Homo sapiens: one gene and its partner. The protein of the gene in region 2 purifies or fractionates together with the protein of the main gene of each other region. This does not show direct contact. Each region holds a gene or a part of one and is shown on either strand. Other genes may lie near its edges. The genes, in order: TBC1D20 and HLCS.

What was found.
Region 1: the proteins of HLCS (region 2) and TBC1D20 purify together in Homo sapiens (affinity purification with mass spectrometry; 2 studies listed by BioGRID and IntAct, with this or other methods). This does not show direct contact.

Annotation. Positions count from the first base shown.
Region 1 is NC_000020.11:438,443-445,533, forward strand, and holds part of TBC1D20 (TBC1 domain family member 20), read right to left. Parts: intron 6,689-7,091; coding exon 6,608-6,688; intron 3,602-6,607; coding exon 3,415-3,601; intron 3,248-3,414; coding exon 3,146-3,247; intron 1,948-3,145; coding exon 1,806-1,947; intron 854-1,805; coding exon 666-853; intron 400-665; coding exon 144-399; 3' UTR 1-143. UniProt on the Homo sapiens protein: GTPase-activating protein (GAP) specific for Rab1 and Rab2 small GTPase families for which it can accelerate the intrinsic GTP hydrolysis rate by more than five orders of magnitude. Also shows GAP activity for RAB18 GTPase.
Region 2 is NC_000021.9:36,748,124-36,753,758, forward strand, and holds the end of HLCS (biotin--protein ligase), read right to left. Parts: 3' UTR 503-5,635; downstream 1-502. UniProt on the Homo sapiens protein: Biotin--protein ligase catalyzing the biotinylation of the 4 biotin-dependent carboxylases acetyl-CoA-carboxylase, pyruvate carboxylase, propionyl-CoA carboxylase, and methylcrotonyl-CoA carboxylase.

The DNA of each region.
Region 1 (7,091 bases), on a different chromosome or scaffold from region 2:
AAACACAAACGGGCAGGGCAGGGTGGCAGGAATAAAAAACTCTGGACAGAAACCCTTTTAATAAAGGAAATTCCACCCCTCCCAATCCTTCCATGGAAGGGTGAGACCTTAATGTGATGTAAGAGGAAGGTCTTCTCTGGCTTTCAGGGAAACAGCTGCAGCTGAAACTTAGGGGCCCATTCCAGGGCACTTTTCACCACAGCCAGTGCAGCCGCTCCAAGTGCCACTGTCAGCCCCATCACTGCCAATTTCACAAAGCGGTTGGTCCTTGGCTTGGTCAGGACATCTTTTGTTCGATCTTCAGGCCGCAGAAGTCCCCGAAACCGCTGCCGCAGCACCATATCAGGCCTCTGCTGGGCTGATGCCAGCTCAAAGTCTTTGAAAGTAGAGGCTGCCGTCCTGCAGGGGAAAGAGACGGAAGGAAGGAAGTGGTATGAAAGAGGAGGAGGAAAGCAAAACTACACCACATAGGCTGCGGGCAGAGCCTTTCATTGCTGGGAAAGCTCTTTATGATAAAGACCCATATGTCTACAGTGGGGATTCCACTGGCCTAAGCTCAGATCTCTGGAAACATGCCCCAACCCTATCCCACCAGACACAAACCTTCCCTCGCTTCTGCTCATTTACAGCCACCCCCATTCAACCAGTGTCCCAGCCTTGCTCACCTCTCAGCTTGCTGTTGGGCAGCGGCCTCCCGAGCAAGTTCGGATGGGGGAAACTGAACAAAAAGGTCTCCTGCTCTGCTGATCAGTGTCTCATAGGGCAAGTCCTGAGGGATCTGGGACAACAGGTGGTGGACCGAGGCCATGTCACAGTCACAGTCCAGGACTTCCTGCTCGCGATACAACACAATCTGTGGGGAGGTAGTAAAGCCTTGCAGTCAGAGGCCAGACACACAGGGCCTGGGCCACCTGCACTCCATTATCCTTGCAGATGAATTTAAACTGGTAACAGACAGGACTCAGCCCAAATGTTGAGCAAACTCTTGTATCCATCAAGGAAGTAATAACATATATACGCTCAGTGCTACTCCTACTCTCTGGCCCTTCCTGCAAACTTCCACCACATGACATGAAAGGCTGACCAGTTACAATCTAAGTCCTTCGGGCATGCTGGGCTGCTCAGGTGTCCCTTTAAGTCTTGAAAGAAATGAAGGAGATTCTTTTAGGAGAAAGTAGGAGAATTATTGGGAGATTCCTGGAGCTCCAGCATAGAAGAAATGGTTCAAAACAGTAGAAAGAACAGTCTTGCTCCCTTTAAGCATCTTCCTTCTGACTGTTGGTCCACAAATCCACAGATGCTCAAGGGACCAGTGGTCATTGAAGGACTTCCCTGAATTCCCATCTCCACCCCATCCCTCAAGACCCTTCTACTAACTGAAGCCCCTACCCTCCACCGCAAGCCGCCTCCCTTGTCTGTCATGACACCAGATCTCTTCTTTTCTTAAATCTGGAGTTGACAGCTTACGCTACTATTTCCCTAATTGTGTTCATCAGCTGAACATATATTCCAGACAATGTCAACAGGAACCCTGACAATTCACAATGCAGATTAGCATTTTAAAGGTTCAGAAGTGTCATGCAGCAAAAAAAATCTGATTTTGTTTATACCCAGCATTTCCCAACTTACTATTTTTTGTGTGTGACACCCCCATTAATACTGCACAGAATGGTGTCCAGGGACACCAGCCTGGGAAGTGCTGTCTTTTGCATCTTTCCATAATCCCCAGGTTTCCCTTCAGGGAAAATGACCACAGTGGGATGGGTGATGGTGAACCCAGCTGCTGGCTCGTGGCCTGTACCTACCACGGCTGCAAAGTAAATCGGCATCAGTGGGTGGCAGGCCAGGAAGAAGTCATATAACCGCACGACGTGCCTGAAGTCAGACAGGACATGCCCAAACCAGGTGATGAGCCAGCTGAGGGCAAAGATGGTCCCTACCTCAGCACTAGAAACAAAGGAAAGGCAGGTGTCAGGTCCTGTGGGCCATCCCTTCCCTCTCTCTGGGCCTTATAGCGCTGGTGAGAAGGAAGCATTTAGGAATAAGATTTCTGGAAAATTCAGTTACCTAGGAATTCAGCATCTTCTCCTTACAAAATATTTAATACAAAGTCTTTAAGGTGTACCACAACACTAACACCACAACAGGGTCCTGGCTGCTTTATCTCACTGGGTGCTCGCCTACTGGCCAACAAATGTCAACTACAGGAACGAGAAGCAGTTGTTTTCAGAGAACTACGCCATGATTCTCCTTCTGACTAAGTCTTACCCTTCTGGGGGGCACAGGTACATATTCCCAAGCCTGAAAACATGACTGCATTAATTTTTCTGTTAACATGAGACAACTGAAATATCTTAAGATGTAGCTGCCAGACACGGTGAGTCACGCCTATAATCTCAGCACTTTGGGAGGCCAAAGCGGGCGGATCACCTGACATCGGGAGCTCGAGACCAGCCTGACCAACATGGAGAAACCCTGTCTCTACTAAAAATACAAAATTAGCCGAGCGTGGTGGCGCATGCCTGTAATCCCAGCTACTTGAGGCTGAGGCAGAAGAATCGCTTGAACCCGGAAGATAGAGGTTGCAGTGAGCCAAGATCATGCCATTGCACTCCAGCCTGGGCAACAAGAGAAAATACTCCATCTCAAAAAAAAAGAAGGCATAGCCATTACCTTTTAAAAAATTTTAAAAAAAGAGGCATTGGCCAAGAACACATTTCCAACTAAACAGAGAAGAAACAAAACATCACATGGGATTTGCAAAAAAATATTTCTTCTCTTTGGTACTTGGGAAATAAAACAACCCATTGTTGGCCTTCCCCTTCTCGCCACTGGATCCCACAGGACTTTGTGTTTCTCTTGTGGCAATAACCTCAACATCTTACCTTGGCATACATACCTTATCCACCTCTCCCCACTAGATGTAAACTCAAGGGATGGGCTATGTCCCCCAAAGAGCACAGTCCCCAAAAATGCTCCAAGAACTGAATTACCCAGATTGCTGGTGACTGGAACAACTGGGGAGAACTTAACAAATCCACCCAAGACAATGAGGAAACTGCGCTCGGCTTGTGAGGAGTGTTTCAGGTGTGGGGGGGTGTGGGCGTGTGTATGCATGCACACAGAAATGCAGACACATATGTACCTCTGCATGAAGTCATGGAGCTCTGGATTCACCTGGTCAATGATGGGCATCAGATAGTTTAATATATGCTTGGTGTTGTCCATTGTTGGATCCATAAAATCCCTGGAGGGAGACAATTCAATAAGCCTGGTTACCAAACACTTAGATCAGGGCTCAGGGTGGCGAGGGCTCAAACTCCTAAAAAAGCTGACCAGAAAACAGGCCAGTGAGTTATCCCCAGGACGGCTGAGGAGTGATGCCCGTCGTCTTGTGTTCCTCTCTACTGGTACCTGAGGTGGTGGGTAGATAATTTTTCTACCAGGGATGTTGCCAGCCTCTCGCCTACCACCAGCAGAAATGTGACCACAATGTCATGGTAGCCCTGGTAGTAGTGCAGCTGAGGGTTGCGCTCCAAGATGAGGAGGATGATGTCAATCAGTTCTTCCTGGAGCCCTTCTCTCTGTTCCTCTGGCATGCCTGGGGACAGGAACAGAGATGCCTTTGAACATACCAAGCAGCCTAGTTAACAAGGAGGTCGAAGAAGGCCAGCAATGAATTTTCAGAGAAAAAAGGAAAATGAATTACAAATAATTTGGCAACGCATATCAAGATCCACTGTTGATACCACCTGGCATACAGGAAAAGGCAGCTGCTAGCTTTCCAGTAGGGGAAGCTGCAGATGCCACCCTAACCAAGTTGCTGCAGTTAATACTGCTGGGACACAGTATTTAACTGCAGAATTTCAACTATGGGAGCCACAGACGGCCTCTGCCTCCCGAGGTGATGCACTGACAGAGCTCAGCATCATGTCTGCAGGATTTCTATCAACAGCGCACAGACCTCAATCTCACAATGAAGAAATACCCAATATCCCCAAAGGAAGAGAAATTTAACTCTCATACAATACAAAGGAACTGTTCCAGATTAAAAATGGCTAAAGATATAGGACAACAGCATGAGAAACGCATAAATCTATATTTCCTTTTCCAGTGAAGCACATTACTCGAAGAAATGGTGAAATGTGAATAAAATCTGTGGATTAATTAGTTAACTATTTTTCAGTGTTGTTACTGATGTTGCTCAGTGTACTGTGATTACATGAGAGCCTTATATTTAGGAAATATGTCCTGAAACACTTGGGGTAAAAAGATGTCATGTTTGCAACTTACTCTTAAATAGTTCAGAGAAAAAGTGTATGTCTATGTGTAAAGCGAAGGAAAGACAGAAAGCAGCTAAAAAAGCAAATGTAGGCCAGGCGCGGTGGCTCACGCCTGTAATCCCAGCACTTTGGGAGGCAGAGGCAGGTGGATCACGAGGTCAGGAGATCGAGACCATCCTGGCTAATATGGTGAAAAACCCCGTCTCTAATAAAAAATACAAAAAATTAGCTGGGCGTGGTGGCAGGCGCCTGTAGTCCCAGCTACTTGGGAGGCTGAGGCAGGAGAATGGCATGAACCCAGGAACCAGAGCTTGCAGTGAGCTGAGATCGTGCCACTGCACTGCAGCCCGGGCGAGAGAGCAAGACTCCGTCTCCAAGAAAAAAAAAGCAAATGTAGTAAAATGTGAAAACAAAAGGAAATCTGGGTAAAAGGTATCTGGGGAATTCTTTGTCCTATTTTTACAACCTTTCAGTAAGTATGAAATTATATAAAAATAAAAAAATTTTAAAGTTACACGGTCCCCTTTAAACCAAAGCAAACGTTACAGGAAAAACTGATCCTCTTGATCCAAAGATGTATTATAGCTGGAAATAGGGAAGCCTGTCTCAGGAGTTCTTTCAGGGAGTTCTTTTACTGCTGGAGCTAGTGCTGCCAGCAGTAAAAATGCCTTGGCCTTATGAGCCAGGTTAGAAGAATGGCACATGCACAGCTTCTCCACACCATTAGCTTTCAGTTACAAACACATACTCAGAGAGAGAAAGCAGCTAATGTAAGGGCCCAAACTAAACCGGACAAAGGATTGCAGGTAAGAGCAAAACTCACCTCTTGCCCATATTTACCCCACCCCTTCTCAAATAAAAAGCATACCCTAAAAGATAAATAAGGAAACGAAGCAAACCCAGGGCTGCTGATAGGTGAAGCAGTGAAAGGAGTGAGAGTAAAAATTAAACCCTGTGTGAATTTTCAGCAGAAAAGCAGTGAGCCAAGCCCAGAAGACCATGAATGGAAAAAGAATATGAAGCCACACTGTAAGTTCAGCCTACAGAAAGCGTATCACAGATATTACATCAATGGAAGAGGAATAAAGGGTTCAGAGGGAAAACAGGTTACCTAGGAAAAAATGGGGGTGGCTCTTGCCTGTAATCCCAGCACTTTGGGAGGCTGAGGTACGTGCATCACCTGAGGTCAGGAGTTCGAGAGCAGCCTGGCCAACATGGTGAAACCCCATCTCTATTAAAAACACACACACACAAAATTAGCTGGGCGTGGTGGCGGGCACCTGTAATCCCAGCTACTTGGGAGGCTGAGGCAGGAGAACTGCCTGAACCTGGGAGGCGGAGGTTGTAGTGAGCTGAGACAGTGCCATTGCACTCCAGCCTGCAACAAGAGTGAAACTCTGTCTTTAAAAAAAAAAAAAAAAGGGAGGCATCTGTCCTATATGATCTCATCCAAACCAGCAGGCTAGGAAAAGGGAATGGACCGTGGGCATGTGCTTTTATCAAAACCACGCTGGCAGGCTACTGCTACCTGGGTATTGCAAGAATCTGTCCAGGGAGCAAGAATGCCAGCAGGAAAGCAGCCCCTTCAACAACAAAAGCCAGGCCAGAGCACAGTGCAGAAGAGGGAGGCAGCCAGCTTAGAGGCTCCTGTTCCCTTTAGCAATTCTCCTCTCTTCATGACCTAAAGGTGGAGTTGCCAGAGGAAGAAAAATAGGTCATCCATGTGAGGTTTGTTGCCCAGTTCCCTTCACTGTGAAAATTGAGACAACGGTCCTTCTTTTCTTTCTTCCTGAAATAAAGAGGTAATTTTAGGAATACATTCTTTTTTGTTTGTTTGTTTTGTTTTTATTTATTTATTTTTTTATCTATTGCTGCTTAATTTGTTAATTAAGGAATATACTCTTACACAAACAGGGAATGGCCTCTCTTCCCTCTAAGGAATCTTACATATGTATGCGCAAGGTACCATCGTTTTTAAACCTAATTAAGATATTACTCATTCTTGTTGGTGCCCAATTCCACACCAATCTGCTCTTTAATGCCAGACTGATGGCTCTAACAATCCTTATTAACTCCTTTTTGTGGCTTCAAGGAAAAACAAAAACCTCTTCTCTCATTCACCACCTCTAGGCCAGGAGAAATTATTTTTGGTTCAGGCTTTCACAGTGGGGGTCTGAAAGTGACCAGTCAAGAAAAGGATGACTCAGCAAAAGGAGAGCTCTGAAGGTCCCTGAGGCGGCAGGGTCCAGCATATTAGGTCACATGGTATGACCTGGAACAGATACAGTCTTTCCAAATGTGGCAGGACCGGGAGAGCTTCTCACCAGGAGGGAACCGCCGCAATGACCGCCGGACGTCCAGCAACACTTGTTGGTAGTCCTTGCTCATCTGCCGTAGGTTCTTCCCTATTGAAGGAAAAGGCACGTTATTGCAGGAATGCCTGAGAAGCCAGACCAGAAGCAAAACATTCTGGGATGACACAAAAGGCCTAGAGGGCACATGTCAGCTTCTCCTGAAGAGGATGATATGACTCAAGATACAACATTTGGCAGGGAATCCCTAGTTTGGTTCCAAACATTATGTTTCCTGCAAGTCACAATGACCCTAAGAGAAGGGAGCACAGACTGCCCAGGAGACAATACAGCAGGGTGGGAAGGAGAGCAAAGACGTAAGGAGGCCAGGCGCCTCGTGCAGAAGGCCACTGTGCATCACTGGGAACTGCTCTGAATTTCAAAGTCCACAGCTACAAAATGAGGATATTCCAAGGATCAAATAAAATCATGAATGTGGGAACAACAGACCACTGAA
Region 2 (5,635 bases):
CCGGCCTCCCGGGGCTGCGGCGCCACCGAGCCCGGCAAATGCGCACGACCTACATTAATTTATGCAGAGACAGCTGTTTGAATTGGACCCCGCCGCCGACTTGCGGATTTCCACCGCGGAGGCCCCGCGCGCCGGTGCCGAGGGCCGAGGAGCGCCCGGGTCCGGGCAGGTGACCGCCCGCCTCTGTCCTGCGAGGGCCGGTGCGACCCAGTTGCTGGGGGCTTGGTTTCCTCACCTTGAAATCGGGCTTCACGCGTCTTGCCTTGTCCCCAACGTTCCACAACAGTCCCGCTGGGGGATTGAAGCGGTTTCACTCCGCAAATATCCTCCACTTTCAGGAGGGAAAACCCACCCTACCACAGTCCGCTCTTCCAAGTGGACGGCAGACCTGGGAGGGGACGCCTGTGTCACGAGCCCTTTTAGATGCTTAGGTGAAGGCAGAAGTGATGATTGTAAGTCCCATGAATACACAACTCCACTGTCTTTAAAAGTCATTCAAGAGTCTCATTATTTTTGTTTTTATTTAACCCTTTCTTCAATACAAAAAGCCAACAAACCAAGACTAAGGGGGTGACCATGCAATTCCATTTTGTGTCTGTGAACATAGGTGTGCTTCCCAAATACATTAACAAGCTCTTACTTCCCCCTAACCCCTATGAACTCTTGATAACACCAAGAGTAGCACCTTCAGAATATATTGAATAGGCATTAAATGCAAAAATATATATGTAGCCAGACAGTTTATGAGAATGACCCTGTCAAGCTTCATTATTACGTGGCAAAATCCCTCTGGCCCACACAGATCTGTAATTCACTAGGCTCGTGTTTGCTACAAATAGTGCTAATAAAGTTAAATTGCACGTGCAATACGGAACACTGTCAATGGACTGCACCTTGTGAAGGAAAAACATGCTTAAGGGGGTGTAATGAAAATGATGTAGACATTTTAAGCATTTTCTACACAGCGAGAAAACTTCGTAAGAACATGTTACGTGTGCAACAGGTAAACAGAAATCCTTTCATAAAGCACCAGCAGTGTTTAAAAAATGAGCTTCCATTAATTTTTACTTTTTATGGGTTTTGCTTAAAGATCTCAACATGGAAAAATCCTGTCATGGCTCTGAACTGCACAATGCATTGAACCGCCGTCCTTCAATTTTCTTCACACTATCAACACTGCAGCATTTTGCTGCTTTATCAAAATGGTTTATTTTAGGAAACTTTTTCCACCTTTCTGAATGGAAAGAGGTTTTCACAAATGTTTTAAACTCATCGTTCTAAAATCAAGTGCACCTACACCAACTGCTCTCAAAATGTGAACTGACTTTTTTTTTTTTTTTTTTGCCAACCCTGTGTCACTTAGTGAGGACCTGACACAATCCCTACAGGGTGTCTGTCAGTGGGCCTCATGGTAAGAGTCACAATTTGCAAATTTAGGACCGTGGGTCATGCAGCGAAGGGGCTGGATGGTAGGAAGGGATGTGCCCGCCTCTCCACGCACTCAGCTATACCTCATTCACAGCTCCTTGTGAGTGTGTGCACAGGAAATAAGCCGAGGGTATTATTTTTTTATGTTCATGAGTCTTGTAATTAAACCGTGATTCTTGAAAGGTGTAGGTTTGATTACTAGGAGATACCACCGACATTTTTCAATAAAGTACTGCAAAATGCTTTTGTGTCTACCTTGTTATTAACTTTTGGGGCTGTATTTAGTAAAAATAAATCAAGGCTATCGGAGCAGTTCAATAACAAAGGTTACTGTTGAGAAAAAAGACCCTATCATAGATTTACAAGTGACAACGTGGACAGGCGTAACAGAGTGTGTATGTACTTGAAAATGTGTACTAGTGAAAACGTCCTTGTCTAAACAAACTTCGTTTTCATAACCTAGAACATGAAGGAAGATTCTTACACGAGCTGGCTTCAGGACGGCCAGGGCTGAGTGTGAAGTCAGCAGAGCTGTTACTGTGGCAACCTAATATTGTGACCTCCATCTTGAAGAGTCTGCACATTTAAGCTGGGGATAGCGTTTCTTGACTTCTGTGAGGCTCCGGCAGGGGAAGAGGAAGCATTTTAATACATATGCCTCTCTTTTACAAAAAAGAAAAAAAAATCATCGTAGGCCCTAACATGTACCATGTTGACAAAAATGCCAGATCAAATGGATTTGAGAAATAAGCCCAATTCAAGGCTGGCTCAGCCCTCCACGGGGCCTCCCAGGGAAAGGAATTCCTTTATGTTCTTGGAAGCCCTTTTCTAGAAAAGCCATTCCATTCATACCTTTGTAGAGCAGTGGGCTGGGTGTGGAGGGCAGCGCGGAGGGTATCTGCAAGAGCCTGTATTTTCCGCCTCCCTTGCCCCCACTCCTTTTATCCTTTTAAAAGTCCTATCAGCCCTGCCTTCGTCCCTTCCGCCCTAAGCCCTAAGAGTGGGGGAGGTTTAATACGGCCAATGGATCTTGTATAAAGTCTACGTAAGTTTTAATTTACCAGAGCTATAAGATGGTTAAGGTAGACTAGTGGGGACTGCTACAGATAAAATGAGATACAAAGAACATTTGCAAATAAATGCCATAAAATTACAGTAGCTTGGAATTTTAGTGAATCATGGCCCTTGTGTTATCTAGAATGCTAATTATTCAAGCTGTTCCTAAACTTAAGTATGACATATAAGATTAAAATCTTGGGGGGAAAAACTGTTCAGATGAAAAGTCAAGTCAAGAAGTTTCCACAAAAGAAAAGAAAAATCCTAAAAACAATCTAGCTGTTGTTACATTAAATTTATTTCTCACCTCCATTAAAAGGGTTTTTGCTTTGGAGTTTTGTTAACTTTCGTTCTTTGGAGTAATAATATTTCTCTTGTGTATGGCGCTGAATACATTTGTCAATAATACGTCAAAAAAAAAAACACTTGGCTTCTTAATACTTGGAAATACGTACATATTCCTTACTATGTAAAACACTTTATTTATTTTGTAAAAATGTTTAAATATGAATAAAAATACTGTAACCCAAAGTAGTTGCCTACTTTTAAAAATGAAACTTGTAAAAATAAGAGGGAGCCCAAACCACATAGAAAGTCTTAGTTTATTTTGGTAGACTTGCTTTTTATAGGCATTGGTTTAAAGTGATTCTTTTCAGAGACATCCTTTGAGAAGTTAAAATTGCAGAGGCTTACGCTTTCTTTTATTTCAAATATGCATAGTGATTAACCAGGAATAAGGATTCTCCCATGTTCTGCCTGTTAAGAGCAAACAGATCTGGAGAACGGAAGCCCACCCTGCCTCCCTTTTCCATCTGAAGCAGTGCGGGGAGGCTGGCTCCTCTCTTTGTTCCCAGACTCCAGGGCAAGGGGCGACCATGCTGTATATGCTGTGCCTTGGGGGACCCCCAGAGGCTGCGCTCTGTGGCCTGTGCTCCCCCGACCTGTGCACCCGCACCCCAGTCGGCCACTTGCTCTCACATCAGGCAACGTCAGCCTGCTGCAGTGAAACTCAACCACGATTTTCCTTTGCACACAAATCCTTCCTACTTCCACCACTCCCTAGCAGAGTTCCCAGTGCCAGAGAGCACTGCTGGGGTGGGGGTGGGGACAGGAAGCCCAGTTATTGCTGTGTTCTATTTTAGGGGGCACTTCCTCAAGAGTCCCCTTGAAACCCGTTACCAGCCTGGAAGGGAGGATATCTTGCCTTTTACAAAATACGGTCGATACTCAATGCACAGCCTCTAAAACAAGGGCTACTCCAGTGTTCTAAAAGCACACGCCAATCCTGAGTTTAGTGACCACATTTTAAAGATCATCAGGAAAATGCCAAGTTCCCATTAAGACTTTAAAGCTCCTTGAGATCCCAGGTTGCGGGGTGCATAAATGGCCCAAATCGGAGAGTGTGCTATAGCAGGTAGACAGGTTTCGCTAACACGAACAGCTATCAGTAAAATGCCTTTATTCAGCTAATTCTATAGAAGCGGAGTTTTGAGAGTCTTTGGTTCATGTGAGGCAAAATCAGGTTTATGGAAAACGCAGCATCTGCTTCAAGGCTGCTTCATCTCTCTCAGGACAACTGAGTCTCCTGCGTGAGGGAGGAGCGCCTGCTGGAAAGCACAGAGCACAGCAGTATGCCCGGAACATCTCCATAGCCTTTGACAAGGCCACACTTCATTAGTTTTAATTTGCAGAAAGGAAATTAAATGATAACATTTTTTCCCAAAGCAGAGTGTCCAGAATAGGACTTCAGCTTAAAACAAAACATAGCATGTTTTTCATTAAATAACCCCCAAAGAAATTCAAAAAGTGATGATGGCAGCTCTGAGAGAGGGCTTGCCTTATATTACAAAGTCTGAGAAATGAAACCTACATCGTTAGCCTCGAGATCTTTGTCCCTGATGATATTCTGCAGATGCCCTCTCAAGGGTAAGTCCATTTTGTAATTTGGGGATGGTGTGGACTTGTATTTTACTTAAGTTTCTAACTAATTTTGAAAGAAGGCTTGGGCATTTGGAGAAGAGTGGTTTTTTTTGTGTTTTTTGTTTGTTTGTTTTTTGAGAAAAATAATTCTAATTGAAGCCTCATTTCCAAAAATTACTTTTTAAGTTCTTTTAATGTTTCATTTCCAAAAAATATATATTGGGTATTTTTTCATAGGGCTGTCCTGTGCCTGGCTAAAGGTAGACAGACTATACTAAAAACCACAAGTTTCTGGAATTAGCCTGACTGGGTAAGACCTGGATAAAGATGGTGCTAGTTTACAATGAAGGGATTTTGTTCAAAGCTGAAAGCTCCATCAAACTTTCTTTCCACTAATTTCAGCTGGGACTGGAAGAGAGAAAACTGGACAAAAATTGGCCTTTTAAAAAGCTGAAAAGTAATGAGTATGATTCATAAGTTCAACAGAGATAGGAGGGACATGGAAAAGGCATGGCGTACATCTGGGAATAGCGAATGCATATCAAAAGGCTTCATTTCTTTTGTTCTTTCATGAGGCTTGTAGCACATCAAATTTTGAATGTCTTCTTTTAAAGCTATGTGCGCACACACGCACGCACACACATATGCGGGCACACACACACATCCTCCCTCTGAACTGATGGTGTTTAGTATCGATAACATTTTCTTTCTTGGTAATACGAGGTAAATGAGGGGGGCAAAAACTTATGACTTCTGAGTAAAATGCCATGTCTTCTATATTCCGTGAGCTGCACAGTCTTGCAGGAATGCTCCACATTTCAGAGTAAATCTGAAACTGGCTTAAAAGCTCCAAATCCTCCCTTGTATGTGGTATGAGTGTGCCTTCATCTCCAGCTGTCAGAGCCAAATCGCCCACCTCCTCATCCAAGTGATGCCTAATCAGACATTTAAGGATTCTGAACTTGATCCTGTCTCTTCACAATATGTAGTAAATTTAAACTTACTTAAGAAAGTCAGTCCCTAACTAAGGACATTTAAACTTCCTTAGGAAAGGAGAGCTCACTGAATGATGTCAAAGTAATGAACTGATTTCCTCTACAAGGTCACTGCAACCACACCAGCTAGCTCTATCTCTACAGGCATTTAGACTTCGCTATGGGGCCACACCACCGGGTGGACAGTAACTCTTGGAAGTCTGTCTTCCCTTTTCTTCATTAATAAAAACACAGAA